7 linked regions of the Homo sapiens genome follow. The protein of the gene in region 1 interacts with the protein of each later gene in a pairwise test. Each region holds a gene or a part of one and is shown in the gene's direction. Other genes may lie near its edges.

Region 1 (3,500 bases):
TTATAACAAAAACCCCCACTTCCTTCAACAAATTCTCAGGAGAAAAATAACATTCCTTTTTAAAAGTATGTTTATGCAAACAATGGGTTTAAAGGGTGGTTTGATCACTTTTTTAAAATAAACTTAAAACTGAGCTCTGAGTTTCAGAGACTGGGCAAGATCATAGTAACACAATAAGGGAGTGAATTGGATGAATTGGTGCCTCATGCCTTTTTGATCAGCAGAATTTAGTCACTAATCCTTTCAATAGAAGATTAATCTGAAGGTTTCATTTCCCTGAAGGAAGTTTGCTTCTTTCAAAGTTTGTGCTTTTTCACTGAGGTTAGAAACTGAAACATCCTAACTTCCTAATACAACAGATATCTACTGCTGGAGGCTCACCAGCTCCTTCCTTCACTTCACTATTTGCCCAACGAAGACAGATTCTGATCAAAGAGGGACAAGCCAGTTGAGAAATTGCTGCAGCACATTCTCCCCATGCCCTTAGAAATTGTTATGATTGTCCCAGAAATCCAGGCTTAAATGATACTCAGGTGTAATATTCAAGATAAGGGTCTGGGAGAATATAAAATATTAATTTGAGGGTGAATCAATCTAATTCAGTCATTGTCTTGGATTGTCCACTAAGTATAATGTGATATTATCATTAATTAAGTATAGAAAGACAGAGCCAATATCTTATACTTTACTTCTCCATCTCATCTCAGGCCATCACCGTAACTCTTTTACTTTACATTCCTCCTGTTGTCCAGTATCCTACTAGATGCTTCATTGTGTACTTCCTCAAATCCAGCTTGGGTCATTACAATCAGCATCTCCAAATTACAGATGGAGACTTGCCTAGCTATATGCAAATGAAACATTTGGACAGAAAGCCAGCCAGAATTCATGAACACAGATTCCCTTGCTGTGCTACTGGTGGCCCCCACTGCCTCCCCTGTGAGTAACAAGAGCAGTTCATTTGAATTCCAGGCAGTTTTGCACCAGCTAAGGGCAAATTCTCTTCTTTCACAGTCCTTTGGCAGCATCAACATCGGGACATCCAATGTGCGTCCAGGTTCCATGAGTGGTTTTGAAAGCCCAGAGTAAGACCATGGGCTGTGGAAAGAGAAGAGATGCAACTCTGAGTTGATACACATGAAAAAGCTAGGGTATTAGTTATTAGAAGGGGAAATGGCAGTCCTTATATACAATCTGTAGAAACAAAGGAAAGAAAGCAAGGCTTCAGTGAATGAAACCTCGTCTCTACTTAAAATAAAAAAAATTAGCTGGGCCTGGTGGTGGACACCTGTAATCCCAGCTATTCGGGAGGCTGAAGCGGGAGAATCACTTGAACCCAGGAGGTGGAGGTTGCAGTGAGCCGAGATTGTGCCATTGCACTCCAGCCTGGGCAATAAGAGTGAAACTGTGTCTCAAAACAAACAAACAAAAAACTATAGTTTTGAATTTTTTTGAGCTAGGGTCTCACTGTGTTGTCTAGTCTAGAGTGCAGTGCTCACTGCAGCCTCAACTTCCTGGGCTCAGATGATCCTCCCACCTCAGCCTCCTGGGTAGCTGGGACTACTGGCTCATGCCACCAAGCCTGGGCAATTTTTTATATGTTTTGTAGAAACAGGATTTTGCCACGTTGCCCAGGCTGGCCTCAAACTCCTGGGCTCAAGTGATCCTCCTGCCTTGGCCTCCCAAAGTGCTGGGATTACAAGCGTGAGCCACTGTACCTGGCCATTTTTTTTCCCCAGATAAACTAACTTGAGCTTCCCATTTTCTTGTTCCAAAGATGATAGTCTCATGAAGTGCTGTTACACTGTGTCTAGAAAGTGTGGGCATGGCTTTAGCACTCCTAAATATTCATAAGGAACACTTCATACTTCACATGACGGGATCACCTGAAGTTGTCAGAGTGTTATAGACATTGAGCCACCTAGCCTCCTGTCCCCAAGTATAATGGCTGCTGGGCTTTATGGGCACAGACCAATTAGGACACAAGGTCGCCTGGTAAGTTAGTACCAGTTAGAAATAGGAGACATGGATTTATACCTGCAGGGTACCCAGGAGGAAACTCCCTTTGGGAATTTTACAGATGGAAGAAGGTCTGTTTTTTGAAACATAATAGATTTTTAAGAAATAGATTTGTGTTTAAGTAAGGTTCCAGAGAACACTTGCTAATTATTATAAATCAACACGTATTAAGTGTTTGCTGTGTCCCATGTGGGGGACACTAGAATAATTCCTTCCACTCCTTTATTTTCTTTTAGCAAAGTTATTTATTTTTAAATGTAAAAATGTATTCAGATTCCAGTGAAGCAAAGTGAACAGGAGATGCTATGCATGGCGTATTAACGAAAGAACACGTGTCACAGCCTATTAACAATTGCTGGATTGAGATGTCAGTGTCTGTTTAATTGCCTTCCACTCTCTTTGAAATAATCATTGCCCCCACTTCATTTTCTTCCTCAAATCAACTTTATCCAAATCAATTTTACTCTTATAAAAATGTTCAGGTAAGGAAAGAAAGGCCTATTTGATGTCCTTCGTGTAACAATGGCCTTACGATATGGGATTTTCCTCCAAGTATTCCTTCAGTAGGAAGAATGGAAAATGGAATTTCTGTAAAAAAGTAAAATTAGGAGAATTCCTATTATGTCCTGATGGAATTTTGATTTTGGAAAGAGAAAGCAACCTAAAATAATTTTTGGTCTCATTCTTCTTTCTTCCTCACCTCTGCTTTTGTGCAGTTGGTTAGGGCTGGAGGGAGGATGGCACTGGGGATTTGCAGATTCTTAGCACTCTGGGTCATCTGCTGCCCTGGCAGTGAGCGACTCTTTTAGTCCAGAGTGCGTCCTTTGAGGTTAGGCAGTGCCCTTGGGTGTCCAGGTTATGGGAGGAGGAAAATGAGGGAGATCTGTGAAGATAGAGTCAGCGGGGAGAGTGGGAAAAAGCAGAAGGAGACCAGAGGTGCCCAGGTAGTGCTGGGCATGGGCAGGGGCACAGTGCCACCTGCAATTGCCTTTGATGCCTCTTGGTGCCCTGTGTTTACTTCTTAGACATCTAGGGAGTAAGGTCTGGCTCTTTCCCGTCTTAACCCAAGGTTGGTTGGGACTCTGCAGTCTGGCCAAGGGATGTGTTGTCCTGTCCCTTCTCCCTTAGGTCACTGAAAGGCAGTCAGGTGAGATGCCCTGTCTGGCCCAAAACGATCTCGGACCCTCGGTGCTGGTCTCACTCTGGTGAGGCTGTCCCTGATGCTTGGCCTTCTCTCCAGGGAACCAGTGGATGAGGTGCTGCAGATCCCCCCATCCCTGCTGACATGCGGCGGCTGCCAGCAGAACATTGGGGACCGCTACTTCCTGAAGGCCATCGACCAGTACTGGCACGAGGACTGCCTGAGCTGCGACCTCTGTGGCTGCCGGCTGGGTGAGGTGGGGCGGCGCCTCTACTACAAACTGGGCCGGAAGCTCTGCCGGAGAGACTATCTCAGGTACCCTCCCCGGCACTCCACTGGG
Region 2 (3,500 bases), on another chromosome or scaffold:
CTGCCTCAGCCTCCCGAGTAGTTGGGATTACAGGTGTGTACAGGTATGCACCACCATGCCCGGCTTAATTTTTGTATTTTTAGTAGAGACACAGTTTCACCATGTTGGCCAAGCTGGTCTAGAACTCCTGGCTTCAGGTGATCTGCCTGCCTCAGCCTCCCAAAGTGCAGGGATTACAGGCATGAGCCACTGTGCCTGGCCTTAACATTTTTTTGTAGATACAGAGTCTCACTATGTTGCCCAGGCTGGTTTTGAACTCCTGGGCTCAAGCTGTCCTCCTGCCTCAGCCTCCCAAAATGCTGGGACTACAGTCATGAGCCATCCCACCCATTCTAAATGCTCACTGTTATAATGTTTTAGGAGCAAGCAGTGTGGTGTGTGAGATGGCATACCTAAAACCAAAAATGTATTTGGAAGTTGGTTTTAGGCAACCCAGCAATGCCTGCATAGGTTTTCTTAGGAAGAAAACATATCTCTGAACTTTTCTTTCTTTTTTTTTTTTTTTTTTTGAGACAGAATCTCACCCTGTCACCCAGGCTGGAATGCAGTGGCATGATCTCGGCTCACTGCAACCTCTGCCCCCTGGGTTCAAGTGATTCTCCTGCCTCAGCCTCCCAAGTAGCTGGGATTACAGGCACCTGCCATTGCACCAGGCTATTTTTTGTATTTTTAGTAGAGACGGGGTTTCACCATCTTGGCCAGGCTGGTCTTGAACTCCTGACCTCATGATCTGCCCGCCTCGGCCTCCCAAAGTGCTGGGATTACAGGTGTGAGCCACCATGCCCGGCCTTCTCTTTTTAATTTGATTTTTACTATTATGACCTCAACTAGTAGAGATTTGCATAACTTTCTTAGTCCCTCCAATATTTCTGCAGATTGACTTTGCCTAGATATGGATTAAATTCCTATTATGAAGGGGAGATAATGAAGTGATTTTGACTATCCTTTAAACTTACTGAAGAGGCAAGGTGTGAACTGATACCTGAAATGTGTTCCCCTAGGCTTGGTACTTTTGCAATAGTGAATATAAGGTCAGAACACATATACTTATAAAGTATGTATACTTATGTATGTTCTGACCTTATATTCATACATAGTTATAAAGCATGTCAGTGAGCATTCAGCCTTCCGCACACCCATTCAAAGAATGCAAGGGTTCTAGGGGGAATTTATGATGTGGAATTTCCCAGAGCCAGATAGCATTAGCATGAGAGGATCTATCAGTCCAAACCTGGGAAGTAGGATTTCATATTTAAAATTTTCTTTTTCAGTATCCCTAAAGAGATTAATTAGATGCCAGTTGACTTCGTGCCTTGTAGTCTTTCTTCTTAGCTTGCTTGCAGGCTTAGCTTGACTTGGTCTAGTGCCAGAGGAGTCTTGCTGTCTTTGGTGTACTTTTCCTAAGAGTTGAATTGTGTTGGTTTTTGTTGTTTGACACAGAGTCTTGCTCTATCACCCAGGCTGGAGTGCAGTGGCGTAATCTCGGCTCACTGCAACCTCCACCTCCCAAGTTCAAGTGATTCTCATGCCTCAGCCTCCTGATTAGCTAGGATTACATGCATGCGCCAGCCACCACACCCGGCTAATTTTCATATTTTTAGTTGAAACGAGGTTTCACCATGTTGGGCAGGCTGGTCTTGAACTCCTGACCTCAAATGATTATCCCGCCTCGGATTCCCCAAAGTGCTGAGATTACAGGTGTGAGCCACTTTGCCCAGCTTGAATTGTGTTGTTTTTATTTTTTTGTAAGTTTTTTAAATTTTTTATTGTTTTCGAGATGGAGTTTCACTCTTGTTACCCAGGCTGGAGTGCAATGGCACAATCTCTGCTCACCGCAACCTCCACCTCCCGGGTTCAAACAATTCTCCTGCCTCAGCCTTCCGAGTAGCTGGGATTCCAGGCACGTGCCACCACACCCAGCTAATTTTGTATTTTCAGTAGAGACGAGGTTTCTCCATGTTGTTCAGGCTGGTCTCGAACTCCCAACCTCAGGTGATCCGCCCGTCTCAGCCTCCCAAAGTGGTGGGATTACAGACGTGAGCCACCGTGCCTGGCAAATTGTGTTAGTTTTAAAACAATTCCCTGAAGCTATCTAAAAGTCTTTTGGCAAAATCCCCTTTGAAATAGCTTTATTAATGAAAAGTAAAGCCATGTGTAGAATTTCACAAAGGAGCAAGTACCACTCACTCATTTAAATGACAGCTACCGAGTGCCTCTATCAGAACACAGTGGTTGATGATGATGACAATAAGGATTTCCCTCATTTACCCCTCCCCAGAACCCTAGGAAGTGGGTGGTTTTTCACTGTTTGTTTTTCTTTCTTTCTTTAGTTTTTTTGAGACGGAGTCTCGCTGTGTCGCCCAGGCTGGAGTGTGGTGGCGCAATCTCGGCTCACTGCAAGCTCCGCCCCCCGGGTTCACGCCATTCTCCTGCCTCAGCCTCCCGAGTAGCTGGGAATACAGGCACCCGCCACCACGCCCGGCTAATTTTTTTGTATTTTTAGTAGAGACCGGGTTTCACCGTGTGAGCCAGGATGGTCTCGATCTCCTGAGCTCGTGATCTGCCCTCCTCGGCCTGCCAAAGTGCTGGGATTACAGGCGTGAATCACTGCGCCTGGCTCTTTTTTTTTTTTTTTTTTCATATGGATTTTTGCTCTTGTTGCCCAGGCTGGAGTGCAATGGCGCGATTTCGGCTCACCACAACTTCCGCCTCCCGGGTTCAAGCGATTCTCCTGCCTCAGCCTCCCAAGTAGCTGGGATTACAGGCATGCACCACCACGCCTGGCTAATTTTGTATTTTTAGTAGAGACGGGGTTTCTCCATGTTGGTCAGGCTGGTCTCCAACTCCTGACCTCAGGTGATCCACCCGCCTCAGCCTCCCAAAGTGCTGGGATTACAGGTGTGAGCTACTGCGCCTGGCTCTTCACTGTGTTTCTAGATAAGGAATCAAGTGGCCAGATAACTGGAGGGTAGTTGGATGGAGATTTGGGCATGCTCTATTGAACTCTGAGGCTGTACTGCCTGCCACCTGTCTCTGCTTTTCCCAGGGATCCTACAAAACTCACTTAAATCTGACATCGCTTCCTGCTCAGAGGAGCCCAGCTGATTGGGTGCCGTGGGAGATCAGACAGTCAGGCTCGGGCTTTACAGGACACTTTTAAAAGTACATTCTCGCAAATTAAATGTCATCTACTCAATAAACATGTATTTTGTGCCAGGTCTGGTGCTGGGCTTGGGAATGCAGCAGTGAGTTCTGAAAGGAGATTCATTATTTGGAGAGGCAGACATTGGAGAGTGCGGTGACACGGGGACCAGAGAGGGCAATGAGGAGTTAGCCCTTCAGCAAGACTAGAGCTTGTAGAGCATGGGCAATCAGAGTGCATGACTCTGGAGTCTAGGTGAAGTCAGGCGGGGGACAAGGAGCCTTGAGGAGATGGCCAAGATCTGGACTTGAGGCTTTGCCTAGGCAAAGAAAGTGGATGCGGCATTGTAGGCTTGGTG
Region 3 (3,500 bases), on another chromosome or scaffold:
ATATTTGATTCCTTCCTTCCTTCCTCTCTCTCTCTCTCTCTTTCTTTTTTTTGATGGAGTCTCGCTCTGTTGCCCAGGCTGGAGTGCAGTGGTGCAATCTTGGCTCACTACAACCTCAGCCTCCCGAGTAGCTGGGATTACAGGCGCATGCCACCATGCCTGGCTAATTTTTGTAGTTTTAGTAGAGACAGGGCTTCAACATGTTGGCCGGGCTGGTCTTGAACTCCTGACCTCAGGTGATTTGCCTGCCTTGGCCTCCCAAAGTGCTGGGATTATAGGCGTGAGCCACCATGCCCAGCCCTTGACTTCTTTTTTTTTTATTGTGGAGAAAGGGCTGTGGCCAAAGTCCAAATCTGAAGATGATCCTACAGACTTCTTGGTAGAACTTTACTGCTGCCCTCTCAGACTTTTCTCCAGAGCAATCCAAGACCAAAAAAGTGCTTTAAGTTCATTCATTTCTCTAACACACTCGCCATGCTTCTTACCCACTCAGTAGCCTGCAGCTGACAAGACCAGACAGCTGGTGATTGTGGGTAGGTTAGGAAACTGAGCTGAGTGTCCCCTTTTCTGGGATACTGCATGTCCAACAAGGCCCAGTGACAATGCTGAGCCTGACCCTTTTCATGAAGGCTCAGTGATTCTTCTCCAGCCATGAGGTGCCTGAACTTCCCCTGCTAGGGACTTTACACATGTTGTCTCCTTAAACCCTCAGCAACATGGTCAGGTAGGTACTAAGTAGCATACTAATTTTATGGCTGACAAAACTGAGGTTAGAGAGATGGAGTGATTTGCCCAAGATCACACAGCTAAAAATGGTAGAGCTGGGATTTATACCTGCACCCCAAGCTATATGAGACAGTAGCAGTGTGTGGTCAGTGGCAGAGGAGATGGTGGTGCCCATCAGCTGGTGACTTCGGTCCAGTGGTATTTGTAGTAACAAACTCAAACTCACTGGATTTTCTTGTGTGTTTTCTTTTATTGCTGCTGTGCTCAACTATTATCAGAAAAAGTTAAGTAACAAAGCCAGCTGAGATCAAGGGCTCATTTTAAAAACAACAACCAGGACAAGCAGTGATCAGGAGATTTATGTATTCATGTATGTATTTACAGCCTGCCTTGTTCCAAAAAGGATTTAAGGGGCTGGGTCTAGGATTTGCTTTTAGGAGATTGTAGAAACAGTCCAGCCACCCATACTGCACCCACCAGGGTATTATTCAGGGGTCATTTGGCTTCCAAAAGAGGTCACCTGAGACCTAGCATGTTCCCTAATTAGCAGAGAAAGTTTGAATCCTTCAACTTGATTAAGAGTAATTTAGGATGCTTTCACAAGCAAAGATTGAAAGAAATTGTGGTTTCATAAGCAAAGATTGAAAGAAATTATGGGAAGAACATGGGTTTCAGAGTCAAGAAACCTGGGTTTCTAGTCTTGGGTCTGTCTACTGTCTAACCCTGGGCAAGTCACTTTACCACTCTGATAATTAGTCTTCCCATCTGTAGTGCAGGAGGTCAGATTAAATATTCTTTCCAGTGCTTTTGGATTTAGCTTTTCAGAAGGCAGAAGATCACCTTCACCTGTCCCTCCAAATTCTTTCTGATTGCTGATTTCCCACCAGGACTTCGTCTTCTATGCTCCCCGGCTGCGGATTAACAAGCGGATCTTGGCCTTGTGCATGGGGAACCATGAACTATACATGCGCCGTCGCAAGCCTGATACCATTGAGGTGCAGCAGATGAAGGCACAGGCCCGGGAGGAGAAGCACCAGAAGCAGATGGAGCGGTAGGTGCTGCACACTGATGTGGGGGGCCAGGGCTGGGGCAAGGAAGCTTCTCAAAGGTGCCCTGCATGCTAAGTCAGGACATGAGGCCAACCTAGGACTTCATAGATGAGAGGTTAGACACCAATATTCACATTTATTCAGAAAAAATCTACCAAGTTTGAGGGGCAGTTTTTACAGAGCTGGATCTAGCAGGAAACTGCCCTGTAGGACCTCACAGTCTACTCAGTCTAGTAGCAGAGAGAGGGAAAACAATATATACATAACTCAAGGTACAAAGGCCATGTCATTCATTCACTTAATAAATATTTATTGAGCAATGAATAAGAAAAGACCAAAAATCTCTGCTTTTGTGAAGCTAGCATTCTAGTGGGGAGGAGACGAACATAATAAATAAGCAAATTATGTGGTACATAAGATGGTTAAGAAGTGCTATGGAGACAAAAACATAGAAGAGGGATGGGGAGAAGGGTAAGCCAAGTATTCTGAGGGCCCAGATGGAGAATACCTAGCCAAGGGAGATAAGAAGGTTCCTGGAAGAGGTGCTAGGGCAAGAAAAAGCAAAAGCAAATACTTATTCCAGATTTGTAACAGACTCTGGGAAAAAGAAGCCTAGAGCTGGGCTTTAGGGCAGGCAGTGTTAGACCTGAGGACTGATGCACTAGCCGTAGAGATTACTAGACTTGAAGCACTTCATCCCAGCACAGAGCCAAAACTTGTCTCCCTAACAAGGTGGATAGGGCAGGTCTTATTGGACCATTTTCAAGATAGGGGAACAAGAGCAAAGCAGTGACATAGCTAAGGTCACCCAGTGGGTTGGTGGGAGAGCTAGGATTCCTGACTCAGGGGTACATTGACAGGGCCCCGTGTACACTGGCCTATGTGGGGCTATGATATGAGGACAAGGGTATAGAGGTAAGGGAGGGTGGCCCAAACTCACAATCCCTAAGTGTGTTGGGAAGGTTGGGTTGAGAGACCCAGAGGCAGCAAGCCTTGGAATTCCCCAGGCTTTTTTTTTTTTTTTTAGATGGAGTCTTGCTCTTTTGCCCACGCTGGAGTGCAGTGGCGCAATCTCAGCTCACTGCAACCTCCGCCTCCTGTCTTCAAGCAATTCTCCTGCCTCAGCCTCCTGAGTAGCTAGGACTACAGGCGCATGCCACTATGCCCAGCCAATTTTTTTTGTATTTTTAGTAGAGACGGGGTTTCACTGTGTTAGCCAGGATGGTCTCGATCTCCTGACCTCGTGATCTGCCCACCTCGGCCTCCCAAAGTGCTGGGATTACAGGTGTGAGCCACCGCGCCTGGCCTCCCCAGGCTTTTGTGGAGCGTTGTTATCCTGTTCTATCCATTTTATCTCCTTCCCTAGTGCTATGCTGGAAAATGAGAAGAAGAAGCGTGAAATGGCAGAGAAGGAGAAAGAGAAGATTGAACGGGAGAAGGAGGAGCTGATGGAGAGGCTGAAGCAGATCGAGGAACAGACTAAGAAGGCTCAGCAAGGTGAGGCTTGGAGTCACCTTGGAGATTGGATTTTTCCAGGCCTAACTCTGAGCTGGAGAACCTTCTGCCTGAGCTGTAGACTCAGACAATGTAGTTCAGGTGTGGCTACAGACTAGAAGAAGAATGGGCAAGAAGAGAGCTCAGAACTTTCTGCCAGCTTTGTCTTGGGGTGGATCATTTCCAGGAACGAAGCTATTGTGTCGTCTTTATCTCTGTGCTCTTCACTGC
Region 4 (3,500 bases), on another chromosome or scaffold:
CACAACCCCAGGGGCCAGCCAGGCCCCCAAGGCCTTCAACAAGCCCCACCTGGCCAACGGGCACGTGGTTCCCATCAAGCCCCAGGTGAAGGGGGTGGTCAGGGAAGAGAACAAGGTGCGTGCTGTGCCCACCTGGGCCAGTGTCCAAGTTGTGGATGACCCTGGCTCCTTGGCCTCAGTGGAGTCCCCGGGGACCCCCAAGGAGACGCCCATCGAGCGGGAGATCCGTCTGGCTCAGGAGCGTGAGGCAGACCTGCGAGAGCAGAGGGGGCTTCGGCAGGCAACCGACCACCAGGAGCTGGTGGAAATCCCCACCAGGCCGCTGCTGACCAAGCTGAGCCTGATCACAGCCCCACGGCGGGAGAGAGGGCGCCCGTCCCTCTACGTGCAGCGGGACATAGTACAGGAGACACAGCGTGAGGAAGACCACCGGCGGGAGGGCCTGCACGTGGGCCGGGCGTCCACACCCGACTGGGTCTCGGAGGGTCCCCAGCCCGGACTCCGGAGAGCCCTCAGCTCAGATTCCATCCTCAGCCCGGCCCCAGATGCCCGTGCGGCCGACCCAGCTCCAGAAGTGAGGAAGGTGAACCGCATCCCACCTGATGCCTACCAGCCGTACCTGAGCCCCGGGACCCCCCAGCTAGAATTCTCAGCCTTCGGAGCATTCGGCAAGCCCAGCAGTCTCTCCACAGCGGAGGCCAAGGCTGCGACTTCACCAAAGGCCACGATGTCCCCGAGGCATCTCTCAGAATCCTCTGGAAAACCCCTGAGCACAAAGCAAGAGGCATCGAAGCCCCCTCGGGGATGCCCGCAAGCCAACAGGGGTGTCGTGCGGTGGGAGTACTTCCGCCTGCGTCCTCTGCGGTTCAGGGCCCCAGACGAGCCCCAGCAGGCCCAAGTCCCCCATGTCTGGGGCTGGGAGGTGGCTGGGGCCCCTGCACTGAGGCTGCAGAAGTCCCAGTCATCTGATCTGCTGGAAAGGGAGAGGGAGAGTGTCCTGCGCCGGGAGCAAGAGGTGGCAGAGGAGCGGAGAAATGCTCTCTTCCCAGAGGTCTTCTCCCCAACGCCAGATGAGAACTCTGACCAGAACTCCAGGAGCTCCTCCCAGGCATCCGGTGAGAAGGGGCTCCAGGGAGTGGCTGCTTGGCTCAGGGTCTCAGAGGTTGGAGCAGGGGAGGGTGGGGAGGTGGAGTTTGAGGCTGTCAAAGGGCTGGGGTTGGGGAGACATTGCCTCCTGACTGTTCATCCCCTCAGTCGCTGGTTTGTCTGCCTGTCTATTAAAAATGTAGATTTTGGAGAGAAATGTCAACTTTACCTTAGGGCTTTTGCTTTATGGATTTGGATGCCTTGTTGTTAGGCGCATAAATGTTCATATATGTTTTGTGTGTTTTGTTTTTGTTTTTGTTTTTTGTTTTTCGGTTTTCTTTTTTGAGACGGAGTCTCGCTCTGTCGCCCAGGCTGGAGTGCAGTGGCAGGATCTCAACTCACTGTAACCTCCACCTCCTGGGTTCAAGCGATTCTCCTGCCTCAGCCTCCTGAGTAGCTGGGATTACAGGTGCCCACCACCACTCCCGGCTAATTTTTGTATTTTTAGTAGAGACAGGTTTCATCATGTTGGCCAGGCTGGTCTTGAACTCCTGACCTCAGGCGATCCACCCTGCCTTGGCCTCCCAAAGTGCTGGGATTACAAGCATGAGCCACTGCTCCCGGCCTGTTCATATATGTTTATCCTCTTGGACAGTTGCACCTTTTTGACAATATGAAATATTCCTTGTGTCACTTTTAATGTTTTTTTTTTTTTTTTTTGAGATGGAGTCTCGCTCTGTCACCCAGGCTGGAGTGCAGTGGCGCGATCTCGGCTCACTGCAAGCTCCGCCTCCCGGGTTCACGCCATTCTCTCGCCTCAGCCTCCTGAGTAGCTGGGACTACAGGCGCCTGCCTCCACGCCTGGCTAATTTTTTTGTATTTTTAGTAGAGATGGGGTTTCACCGTGTTAGCCAGGACGGTCTCGATCTCCTGACCTCGTGATCCACCCACCTCGGCCTCCCAAAGTGCTGGGATTACAGGCGTGAGCCACCGCGCCCGGCCACTTTTAATGTTCTTCACCTTGCATGTCGGCCCATCTGTGCATCCAGTTTCTCCTGACTGGCTACTTTGGTCAATCTGTCAGTTTCCCGGATAGTCATCTGCTCTGTCTGTCCATACATCTGTCTCCTTAGCTGCTGGCTAGAGACTCTGTCTCCCGAGCAGAGGTCTGACAAATGTTCTAATGTTCTGCCCTCCCTGCTCCCCTACAGGCATCACGGGCAGTTACTCGGTGTCTGAGTCTCCCTTCTTCAGCCCCATCCACCTACACTCAAACGTGGCGTGGACAGTGGAAGATCCAGTGGACAGTGCTCCTCCCGGGCAGAGAAAGAAGGAGCAATGGGTGAGTCTGGAACCCGTCTCTGCAGAGGCCAGGCTGAGGTCAGACAGCCCCTATTAGGGCCACAGGAAGTTCAAGCAGGACTCAAGCCTGACCTGGGTTCAAGCACTACCCCCACCCCTGGCCGTGCCTCAGTCTCCTGCAGATGTCAGGTAGAAGATGATAAACTTGGTGTCCTTGTATCTCTGGGCTTCTGCTTGGAGAGGCCATATAAGCTGGGGTCTTTGTCCCCATCAGGAGGTCATCTCCAGGATCAAAGACCAAAGGACCAACTCTGCTTGGAGGAGGAGGACACTGGCAATTTGTCATCGTCACCAGCATTAGTTTCTTTTTTTTTTTTTTTTTTTGAGACGGAGTCTCACTCTGTCGCCCAGGCTGGAGTGCAGTAGCACGATCTCGGCTCACTGCAACCTCCACCTCCCGGGTTGAAGTGATTCTCCTGCCTCAGCCTCCTGAGTAGCTGGGATTACAGGCGTGCACCACCACGCCCGGCTAATTTTTTTGTATTTTTAGTAGAGACGTGGTTTCACCATGTTAGCCAGGCTGGTCTCAAACCGATCTCAAGTGACCTGCCCACTTGGGCCTCCCAAAGTGCTGGGATTATAGGCATGAGCCACTGCACCTGGCCACAGATATTTACTTCTAAGAAAGAGAGAGAGAGAGAGAGAAGGCAGGAGGGAGGGAGGGATGGAGGGAAGGAAGGAACAAAGCGAGGAAGGAAGGGAGGGAGGGAGAGGGAGAGACGGAGGGATGTGTCTGTCACACGCTGGCTCGGGGCTTCCAATGAACCACACCTTTAGCACCCTGGTGGTCTCACATGCCCAGGGTTAGGCAGCTCATGAACCCAGGCTTGACTCCAGGACCTACAGGCCACAGAGCTTTGCCTTAGGGGTTTTACTTTATGAATTTTGATGCCTTGTTGTTAGACATGTAATTGTTCATGTATGTTTATCCTCTTGGATGAGAGCTCCTTTTGTCAGTATGAAATATTCCTCACGTCACTTTTAATGACACGAGGAATATTTAGTGCCATGAGGAATATTATGTCCTTTTTTTTTTTTTTTTTTTTTTGAGA
Region 5 (3,500 bases), on another chromosome or scaffold:
ATAATCCCAAAAAAAACCCTTTATACTTATTATTTATTTATTTATTTTGAGACGGAGTCTAGCTCTGTCGCCAGGTTGGAGTGCAGTGGCGCGATCTCTACTTATTGCAGCCTCTGCCTCCCGGGTTCAAGCGGTTCTCCTGCCTCAGCCTCCTGAGTAGCTGGGATTACAGGCACGCGCCGCCACACCCACCTAATTTTTGTGTTTTTAGTAGAGAGAGGGTTTCACCATGTTGGCCTGGCTGGTCTTGATCTCCTGACCTCGTGATCCACCCACCTCGGCCTCCCAAAGTGCTGGGATTACAGGCGTGAGCCACCGTGCCGGCCAGTAATTTTTATTTTCTCTTCCTTGAATTATAGATCTAACATTGAAATTTGTTTGGAAATGCTTAATTTATAATACACTTCAAAACTAAACTGACAAATTATTTAAAATAAAAAATTTGAAGTTTTAAATAATTGATATTCTGATTATTAAAAATAGATTACATTTTATATACTAAATTTTAAATCACTAAATTATCACATTTATAAAAGAATATAATTTAAAGAAATAAGTAACCAAATAAATATTGCTCTAAATACTTAATAAGCTATTTTTTCCAGAATAAAAATATTTATATGAAACTTACATTTGCGAAGTTCTTAATTGCAATATGCTAATCTTCTGCATTGCAATGTATTTAATAGTTAGATAATTCAAATGATGTAAAATTTCAAAACCTGAAAAGTTTCTAAGAATAATATAAATTAGTGGCTACTCTATGATAATTATCAAAATAGTGCTTAATGTTGAAGATGTGCCAAGTTCAGCCGTGCCATTTTTCTGAGCAGTTTTGAACTTTAGACATTGATTTCATGTAAGGTTAAATTGCACATTAATACTTGTTTATAAACATACAAAGGTAAAGTGTTGCCCATATATGTGCATTTCTCTTACCAATATTCAAAGGGCAGATTTATTTTTAAAAGTTATTTTTCAAAATGGAATCAGCATATTTCAACCAAAATGTAAACTCTGGTAACACGTATTTTTCCCTCTGCTTATATTATGGACAATAACTTGAATGTCTTTGGCCAAAAAAAAGCTTTAAAATTTTTCCCACTTTCAGGGCATTTGTGATTGTTATTAAATAGTGCAAAATTATATGATACTAGTTTAATTTTATTATACAAAGAAGGAAATTGAGAATTCAGAATCATAGAGCTTAAAGCATATTTTTCTTGAGGACATCTGTAGAATTACCAAAGGGCTAAACTATGCAACTGAGTATAGATACTATTGATTACCATAATCTAGAGTTTCTATTTTCAGCTTAAACTGTAAAGACAGATGTCCTGATTCCTAGTAATTAAAACTGTATGCACATTTCAGCTATGCATATACCTATCTTTTGTCTTTGAAAATTCAGTGTAGAATATTCTAACTTGTCTTACATATTAATATTACATTGTAATTAATATTTTGCAGTGCCATTCAGAAGTCCTTATTGTCTCTGAGGATAGAATATTTATTTTGGCTTTTTTATACCCACAGTTAATATTGGGGCTAGAAGTACTTAATTCCATTTACTTCTGAATGGCAACAATGTTCTCTGCTTCCTGATGGCCGGTTCTCTTCTGTTGAAAGCATAAAACTCCAATGGAATAAAATTGAGTGGCCAAAAAACCTTATATAGAGAATCATAGGGACTGGAATACATTTGCCCTTTTAGGAAGTATTTCATGAATTAATGCCTCAATTTTATTCAAACTATATATAAATAATTGTATAGTTCTTGAAAAATTTTCTACAAATGGGCATACTGTCTCAAGAAAGATACATTGCATATCTGATACTCTAAAGTAATTGGAGTGACAGATTTATAAGCTTTGGGTATCTTCATTTTGGGGTTGCAGATATTAATTTGGCAAGTTTAATATAACACTAGCTACAGACTGAGATGTCAGAAATAGAGAATAGTCTATAAATACTTGAACTTTTTAAAAGTTCAGAATTAAGTTGTGAAAATAGTTGAATTTAAAGATATAATCTGAAATTCTTATGAAGCATTTACTTGCACATGCATTTGAAGTGAAGATAGTCTTCTAGAATCCTGAATGTGATTTTCTAGTGTATTATTTTAAAAACTGGCTGTCCTTGTGGATGTACTATTCTCAGGAAGATATAAATGATATTGCACTAAATTTGTCTTCATATTAAAGTTAATTTTTGTAAATAAGTTATGATTTATAGACAATGAAATCTTAGGCAAATGCCAGCAGAGTGTCTTTGAAATTCATAATGTTATCTGTTATGAAAAACATTCTTTGACCTGGTTACATTTTAACCAGTAGTATTTCAAAATAAAATTAATGATCATGTATCAGTAAAATGTATTGTATAAAATAGCAGGGAAAGGTAATTGCAAATTTTTCAAGGCTATGTCAATTTTAATAATATTTTGGAAAATTATAAAATTTAGAAAAGCTTTTAAATAGCGGCTTTCCATTTCTTAGAGACATTTACATCTACAATATGATAAGTAAGCATAATTAAGATCTTGTTGGATGAATGTTGAAACCATATTTATAACCATCATTTCATTTTGTCAGGTATGTTTTACTAGGTCATTGCATAATGCATTAAAAATGGAAGAATGACAGAAAAATGAGTTCACCAAAAAAGAGAAAATCTTGTTTATTTTCAGATCCAAAACTTTTTCTTGCTTATGATATCGAGGTTGAAATTCTAGGTGAAGCACATCTCTATTTGTGGCTAAATCTACTTTATTATAAAGCCAAGGTAAATTCATTTTATCATAAGAGGACCAGGTTGAACTGATAAGTGAAAGCAGATTGTGGGTAGAGGACCTGGCACTGTTATTTGCATTTATCTTCACGATAAATAATGTTGAGTAGACAATTCCCAGAATTTGAATAATGGTCTATAACCTCTAACTGCCAGACATTTGCCATACCAGTTTTATGGTGGTCACAAGTGTTTTGATACTAACGTATTTTCCTTTACTTGGAGGAGGGAGGATAAATGGAATAACCATAAATCAAGTAATAAATGGCTAGGTTAGAACTTCTGTTTACTTTTTTCAACAGCTTTATTCATTTTGCTTGCTTAAAGTGTAATGCTTGTTTTGTGATAAACGGTGCCTACATTTTTGCTTTGTTTTTTAAGCTACAGTGTCACATCTTTTGCTTTCACAAACCTATACTAACTTAAATATACATATGGTTGTGGAATGCTTATGATGTATCCTGTTTTGTGGGGATACAAGATGATTAAGGCAAGTCCCTGTCCTCAGACAGTTTACAATCTAGCCCTCTGCCAATACAGTTCCTCAACATATTCACCAAAGTTACTTTTAAAAAATTGGTAAATCTGTATTTTGAACATTTGGAACAAACGAAATTAAAACTTGTACTTTCATTCTTCTTGTGATAACCTTAACTAGAAGAACTACATTGCATCTTATATATTTTTTTCTAGACTATTTCCGTTAATGT
Region 6 (3,500 bases), on another chromosome or scaffold:
GCCAAATGACTACCTAACTGTTGTTTTAGTCTCATTCCTAGTCCTTATGCTTATAACAGGTATGCTGCCTTGTTTATTCTCTAGAGTTCAGCTCTGATTATGTCATTTTTCTGGGAAAATGCCATCAGGCTTTCTTAACCAATACAGTAAACATTACCACCATTCACCTCACTGTGACATGAAAGTCATCTTTCATTCTTCTTTCCCCTCACAATCCACATCTAATCTATTAGCAAGTTCTATTGTTTCTGCTTCTAAAATATGTAACTAATTCATTTACTTATTTTCATCCTCACTATTACCATAAATTTATTTTCCACAGAGCAGCCAGGCTTATTTTTTGAAAATCAGATTATGTCACATACTGACTGAAACACTTCCATGGCTTCCCTATCATCTATAAAGATCCAACTCTACAGGTTCCTCACAGCCCTACTGGAGCTGGCCCTCCCTGCTCTCTCCCCAGCCTCATCTTGGGTCCTTTTTCTCACCTATCATGTTTCAATACATTGGATTTATTTTTACTGATTTCCTTGAAATGGCAGCATTTGAAAATTCCAATTCAGGGCCTTTTTGTACATGGCATTTCTCCTATCTGAAATAGCTTCCCCACCATCCTTAAGTGGCTGACTCCATCTTTCCTTTCAGTGAGGCTTTTCCTGGCCACTCTGCTATGGCAGTTCCTCCTCATTTTTCTATATCACTTCCCTCTCTTTTTTTTTTTTCCCCTTTGCAGCACTATATTATAATTTGTGTTGCTGATTTGTTTAGTGTTTATCTGTCCCACCTGAGTGTATACTTCATGAAGGTAAGGACTTATATAGTTTATTATATATTTAGTGCTCAATAAATATCAGTTCTAAAATGACATGAATAATTAACAAAATTTATTTCTTGTCTGTGTCACTGCTGAAAATTGGCAAGTCAAACACGTACCATATATGCTTATAATAATGTAAAATTAAAAATGTGACTTGGCTTTTTATAATTGTGTGTGATATGAAAATATTTATGCAGCATTTCCCCCCTTCATCTTGAAGTAAATACAAATATTTTTATGTTTATTGTGGCATTCTGAGCACTTCCTGGGAGTTAGAAGACCTGGATTCTAATTCTGGGTCTCCTACCAGCTAACATTGTGACCTTGTAGTCACAATCTCTAATTTCCTCGTCTATAAACTCAGAAGGTTAGAATACATGATAATCAGGAGCCCAGCCTGCTATAAAATTCCATGAAAAGTATATTTTTAAACACAGTATTTAAATATAATTTTTCTTTTCTTTCTACGTAACAATCAAGTTCTTATTCTACCTGGGAAAGCTGATGTTATCCCACTACTTTAAAAACAATTTTTTTTATTTCCATAGGTTACTGGGGAACAGGTCGTGTTTGGTTACATGAGTAAGTTCTATAGTGGTGATTTGTGAGATTTTGGTGCACCCATCACCCAGGCAGTATACAGTGCCCCCAATTTGTAGTCTTTTATCCCTCACCCCCTTCCCACCCTTTCCCCCTGAGTCCCCAAAGTTCATTGTGTCATTCTTATGCCTTTGCATCCTCATACCTTAGCTACCACTTATGAGTGAGAACATACAATGTTTGGTTTTCTATTCCTGAGTTACTTCACTTAGAATAATAGTCTCCAGTCTCATCCAAGTCACTGTGAATGCTATTAATTCATTCCTTTTTATGGCTAAATAGTATTCCATCATATATATCACATTTTCTTTGTCCACTTATTGATTGATGGGTATTTGGGTTGGTTCCATATTTTTGCAGTTGCAAATTGTGCTGCTATAAACATGCATGTACAAGTATCTTTTTTGTATGATGAGTTCTTTTCCAATGGGTAGATACCCAGTAGTGGGATTGCTGGATCAAATGGTGGTTCTACTTTTAGTTCTTTGAGGAATCTTCACACTTTTAGTTCTTTAAGGAATCTTCCATAGTGGTTGTACTAGTTTACATTCCCACCAGCAGTTCCCAGTTCATTGCATCCACACCAACATCTAATATTTTATGATGTTTTGATTATGGCCATTCTTGCAGGACTAAGATGATATCACATTGTGGTTTTGATTTACATTTCCCTGATCATTAGTGATGTTGAACATTTTTTCATATGTTTGTTGGCCATTTGTATATCTTCTTTTGAGAATTGTCTATTCATGTCCTTAGCCCACTTTTTGATGGGCTTCTTTGTTTTTCCTTGCTAATTTGTTTGAGTTCATTGTAAATTCTGGATATTAATCTTTTGTCAGATGTATAGATTATGAAGATTTTTTCCCACTCTGTGGGTTGTCTGTTTACTCTGTTGACTGTTCCTTTTGCCGTGAAAAAGCTCTTTAGGTTAATTAAGTCCCAGCTATATATCTTTGTTTTTATTGCATTTGCTTTTGGGTTCTTGGTCATGAAACCCTTGCCTAAGCCAATGTCTAGAAGAGGTTTTCCAATGTTATTTTCTAGAATTTTTATAGTTTCAGGTCTTAGATTTAAGTCCTTGATCCATCTTGAGTTGATTTTTATATAAGGTGAGAGATGAGGATCCAGTTTTATTCTCCTACTTGTGGCTTGCCAATTATCCCAGCACAATTTGTTGAATAGGGTGTCCTTTCCTCACTTTATGTTTTTGTTTGCTTTGTCAAAGATCAGTTGGCTGTAAGTATTTGGCTTTATTTCTGGGCTCTCTGTTCTATTCCATTGGTCTATGTGCCTATTTTTATACCAGTACCATGCTGTTTTGGTAACTATGGTCTTATAGTATAGTTTGAAATCAGGTAGTGTGATGCCTCCAGGTTTATTCTTTTTGCTTATTCTTGCTTTGGCTATGCGGGCTCTTTTTAGGTTCTATATGAAGTTTAGGATTGTTTTTTCTAATTCTGTGAAGAATGATAGTGGTATTTTGATGGGAATTGCATTGAATTTTTAGATTGCTTTTGGCAGTATGGTCATTTTCACAATGTTGATTCCCACCCTATCAGCATGGAATGTGTTTCCATTATTTGTTTCATTATTTGTGTCATCTGTTATTTCTTTCAGCAGTGTTTTGTAGTTTTCCTTGTAGAGGTCTTTCACCTCCTTGGTTATGTATATTTCTAAGTTTTTGTTTGTTTGTTTGTTTTTCAGCTATTGTAAAAGGGGTTGAGTTCTTGATTTGATTCTCAGCTTGGTCGCTGTTGGTGTAAAGAAGAGCTACTGATATGTGTATATTAATTTTGTATCCAGAAACTTCGCTGAATTCTTTTATCAGTTCTAGGAGCTTTCTGGAGGAGTCTTTAGGATTTTCCAGGTAAACAATCATATCATCAGTGAACAGTGACAGTTTGACTTCTTTACCTATTTGGATGACCTTTATTTCTTTCTGTTGTCTGATTGCTCTGCCTAGGACTTCTTCTAGTACTGTGCTGAAGAGGAGTGGAGAGAGTGGGCATCCTTATGTTGTCCCAGTTCTCAGAGGGAATGCTTTCAACTTTTCCCCATTCAGCATTATGTTGGCTGT
Region 7 (3,500 bases), on another chromosome or scaffold:
GAAAAAATTCGTATGTGAAATGTTAAGTTCCACCACCCAAATTCAACACTATTAATATTTTTATATATTTTTTCCAGAGATTTTTAATGCTTAATAATTTTATTTTTATTTTCTACATATAAAAGTAATATATTACCACTAAGTTCAGAAAAGTACAAAGAAGCAGAACAACACTCAGTCACAATCCCATTACATAAGTGCAGCCACTTGAATATGCTCTTTATCTTTTTTCTCCTTCCGTTGTTTTTGTATGAATGTCATAATTGAAACCATACTCACTGTATGTACAATTTTGGTTCTGGATTTTGTTTTTCTTTTCAAAATGGTAGCTTTCATTATATAAACAGTACATATTTTTGTGCAGAGAAAAAATATAAATATAAAAATTATAAGATATAAAAAATACATATTAGTATATACATTATAGAAATTCATTAATATTCTATGTGCTTTATTCTCTAAACTGTACAAGGAATACAGTTTCGTGTCAATAAATAATCATATGATAGATATGTATATTGTTTTATTTTATTCTAGTTTAGTTTTTTTTTTTTTTTTGAGACAGAGTCTCGCTTCATCACCCAGGCTGGAGTGCAGTGGTGCGATCTTGGCTCACTGCAACCTCTGCCTCCTGGGTTCAAGCAATTCTTGTGCCCCAGCCTCCAGAGCAGCTGAGATTATAGGTGTGCGCCACCACACCTGGCTAATTTTTATATTTTAGTAGAGTTGGGGTTTGACCATGTTGGCCAGGCTGGTCTCGAACTCCTGACCTCTGGTGATCTGTCCGCCTTGGTCTCCCAAACTGCTGGAATTACAGATGTGAGCCACTGCACCCAGCCTCTTAGTTTTTGTGACAAGATTTTACTCTGTCACCCCAGGCTGGAGTGCAGTGGCACGATCATGGCTCACTGCAGCCTTGACTCCAGGTGCAAGTAATCCTTTTACCTCAGCCTCCTGAGCAGCTGAGATGACAGGTGTGTGCCACCATGCTCAGCTAATTTTTGTTTTTGCGACGGAGTCTCGCTCTGTCACCCAGGCTGGAGTGCAGGAGTGTGATTTCGACTCACTGCAACCTCCCCCTCCTGGGTTCAAGCGATTCTCATGCCTCAGCCTCCAGAGTAGCTGGGATTACAGGTGCCCACCACCACGCCCAGCTAATTTTTGTATTTTTAGTAGAGACAGGGTTTCACCATGTTGGCCAGGCTGGTCTCGAACTCCCTACCTCAGGTGATCCACCTGCCTTGGCTCCCCAAAGTGCTGGGATTATAGGTGTGAGCTACCGTGCCTGGCCATGCCCAGCTAATTTTTAAATTTTTTGTAGAAATGGTGTCCCATTATGTTGCCCAGGCTGGTCTTGAGCTCCTGGAGTCAATCAGTCATCCTGCCTCAGCCTCCCAAAGTACTGGGATTACAGGCATGAGCCGCTGTGCTCAGCCAAATTGTATGATTTAAAAAAATGTTTTTTAACTCAAAGAGCATTGCAAAAATATACAGAGAACTTTTATATACCCTTTATACAGATTTACCAGTATTTAACATTTTGCTTGTATTTGCTTTATTTTCTTTGTGTACCTTGAGATTTATTTTTTGTGAACCACTTGAAAGGTAGGTTACAATACATCATGCTTCTTTACCCTTTAATATATGTGTATTTCCTAAGAAGAATATTCTCTTATGTAACCATGGTAGAGCTATCAAGTTTAAGAAATTTAACTTGGCTACAATAATTGAATCCATGTGGCATTTCATCAGTTTTCCCAATAATGTCCTTGGTAGCATTTCCCCTGCAGTACAGGACCTGATCTGGGGTCACATACTACATGTAGTTGTCAAATCGTCTTTTTTTTTTTTTTTTTCGAGACAGAGTCTCGCTCTGTCGTCCAGGCTGGAGTGCAGTGGCGTGCGATCTCAGCTCACCCTAACCTCCGCCTCCCAGGTTCAAGTGATTCTTGTGCTCCAGCCTCCCAAGTAGCTGGAATTACAGATGTGCACCACCGTACCCTGCTAATTTTTGTATTTTTAGTAGAGATGGGATTTTACCATGTTGGCCAGGCTGGTCTTGAACTCCTGACCTCAGGTGATCTTCCCGCCTTGGTCTCACAAAGTGCTGGGATTACAGATGTGAGCCACCGCACCCAGCAAATCATCAGTTTTAATAGATATAGTTGTATCTTCTGGATATATTTCATTTGTTTTCCACTAATTGTCATATAGGTTGTTTGTAATCTTTTTAAAGGTTTTGTCACTTAGCATCGTGTTTTTTATCTTTATTTATTTATTTATTTTTTAATTATTTTATTTTATTTTTTTGAGACGGAGTCTTGCTCTGTCACCCAGGCTGGAGTGCAGTGGTGTGATATCAGCTCACTGCAAGCTCCGCCTCCCAGGTTCATGCCGTTCTCCTGCCTTAGCCTCCTGAGTAGCTGGGACTACAGGCGCCCACCACCATGCCTAGCTAATTTTTTGTATTTATAGTAGAGACGGGGTTTCACCATGTTAGCCAGGATGGTCTCGGTCTCCTGACCTCGTGATCCGCCCACCTCGGCCTCCCAAAGTGCTGAGATTACAGGCGTGAGCCACTGCGCCCGGCCTAGTTTTATTTATTTTTTTTGAGACAGGGTCTTGCTCTGTCACCCAGGCTGGAATGCAGTGGCACGATAGGTGTGTGTCACCATGCCTGGCTGATTTTTGCATTTTTTTGTAGAGACAGGGTTTTGCCATGTTGCCCATGCTGGTCGTGAACTCCTGGCCTCAAGTGATCTTCCCACCTTGGTGTCCCAGAGTGCTGGGATTACAGGTGTGAGCCACCGTGCCCAGCCCATAAGTGTTTTTTATTTATTTATTTATTTATTTATTTATTTATTTATTTAATTTACTCCAGCCCTGGCTGGAGTACAGTGGCACGATCTTGGCTCGCTGCAATCTCCACCTCCCAGGTTCAAGCAATTCTTCCTGCCCCAGTCTCCTGAGTAGCTGGGATTACAGGCATGTCTCACCACACCCAGCTAATTTTTGTATATTTAGTAGAGACAGGGTTTTGCCATGTTGCCCAGGCTGGTCTTGAACTCCTAAGCTGAAGTGATCGCCTACCTTGGCCTCCCAAAGTGCTAGGATTACAGGTGTGAGCCACTGCATCCAGCTATTATCTTAAAATATATTTGCAAACATGGAAATAGTGGGTTTAAAGATCAGATCTGCCAGGCGCAGTGGCTCACGCCTGTAATCCCAGCACTTTGGGAGGCCGAGGTGGGTGGATCATGAGGTCAGGAGTTCAAGACCATCCTGACCAACATGGTGAAACCCCGTCTCTACTAAAAATACAAAAATTAGCCAGGCGTGGTGGCACGCACCTGTAATCCCAGCTACTCAGGAGGCTGAGGCAGGAGAATCACTTGAACCCAGGAGGTGGAGGTTGCAGTGAGATTGTGCTACTGCACTCCAGCCTGGGCAACAGAGCGAGACTCCACCTCAAATAAATAAATGGGCAACAGAGCGAGACT

What was found.
Region 2: the proteins of LMO2 (region 1) and PBX4 interact in binary tests that used the Homo sapiens proteins (3 or more experiments, as listed by UniProt).
Region 3: the proteins of LMO2 (region 1) and MSN interact in binary tests that used the Homo sapiens proteins (3 or more experiments, as listed by UniProt).
Region 4: the proteins of LMO2 (region 1) and MISP interact in binary tests that used the Homo sapiens proteins (3 or more experiments, as listed by UniProt).
Region 5: the proteins of LMO2 (region 1) and PAX9 interact in binary tests that used the Homo sapiens proteins (3 or more experiments, as listed by UniProt).
Region 6: the proteins of LMO2 (region 1) and EFHC1 interact in binary tests that used the Homo sapiens proteins (3 or more experiments, as listed by UniProt).
Region 7: the proteins of LMO2 (region 1) and ISY1 interact in binary tests that used the Homo sapiens proteins (3 or more experiments, as listed by UniProt).

The regions. Positions count from the first base shown.
Region 1 is NC_000011.10:33,864,577-33,868,076, reverse strand, and holds part of LMO2 (rhombotin-2), read left to right. Parts: intron 1-3,259; coding exon 3,260-3,475; intron 3,476-3,500. UniProt on the Homo sapiens protein: Acts with TAL1/SCL to regulate red blood cell development. Also acts with LDB1 to maintain erythroid precursors in an immature state.
Region 2 is NC_000019.10:19,608,688-19,612,187, reverse strand, and holds part of PBX4 (pre-B-cell leukemia transcription factor 4), read left to right. Parts: intron 1-3,500.
Region 3 is NC_000023.11:65,733,654-65,737,153, forward strand, and holds part of MSN (moesin), read left to right. Parts: intron 1-1,613; coding exon 1,614-1,777; intron 1,778-3,141; coding exon 3,142-3,272; intron 3,273-3,500. UniProt on the Homo sapiens protein: Ezrin-radixin-moesin (ERM) family protein that connects the actin cytoskeleton to the plasma membrane and thereby regulates the structure and function of specific domains of the cell cortex.
Region 4 is NC_000019.10:757,612-761,111, forward strand, and holds part of MISP (mitotic interactor and substrate of PLK1), read left to right. Parts: coding exon 1-1,115; intron 1,116-2,297; coding exon 2,298-2,428; intron 2,429-3,500. UniProt on the Homo sapiens protein: Plays a role in mitotic spindle orientation and mitotic progression.
Region 5 is NC_000014.9:36,668,360-36,671,859, forward strand, and holds part of PAX9 (paired box protein Pax-9), read left to right. Parts: intron 1-3,500. UniProt on the Homo sapiens protein: Transcription factor required for normal development of thymus, parathyroid glands, ultimobranchial bodies, teeth, skeletal elements of skull and larynx as well as distal limbs.
Region 6 is NC_000006.12:52,426,842-52,430,341, forward strand, and holds part of EFHC1 (EF-hand domain-containing protein 1), read left to right. Parts: intron 1-3,500. UniProt on the Homo sapiens protein: Microtubule inner protein (MIP) part of the dynein-decorated doublet microtubules (DMTs) in cilia axoneme, which is required for motile cilia beating.
Region 7 is NC_000003.12:129,140,564-129,144,063, reverse strand, and holds part of ISY1 (pre-mRNA-splicing factor ISY1 homolog), read left to right. Parts: intron 1-3,500. UniProt on the Homo sapiens protein: Component of the spliceosome C complex required for the selective processing of microRNAs during embryonic stem cell differentiation. Required for the biogenesis of all miRNAs from the pri-miR-17-92 primary transcript except miR-92a.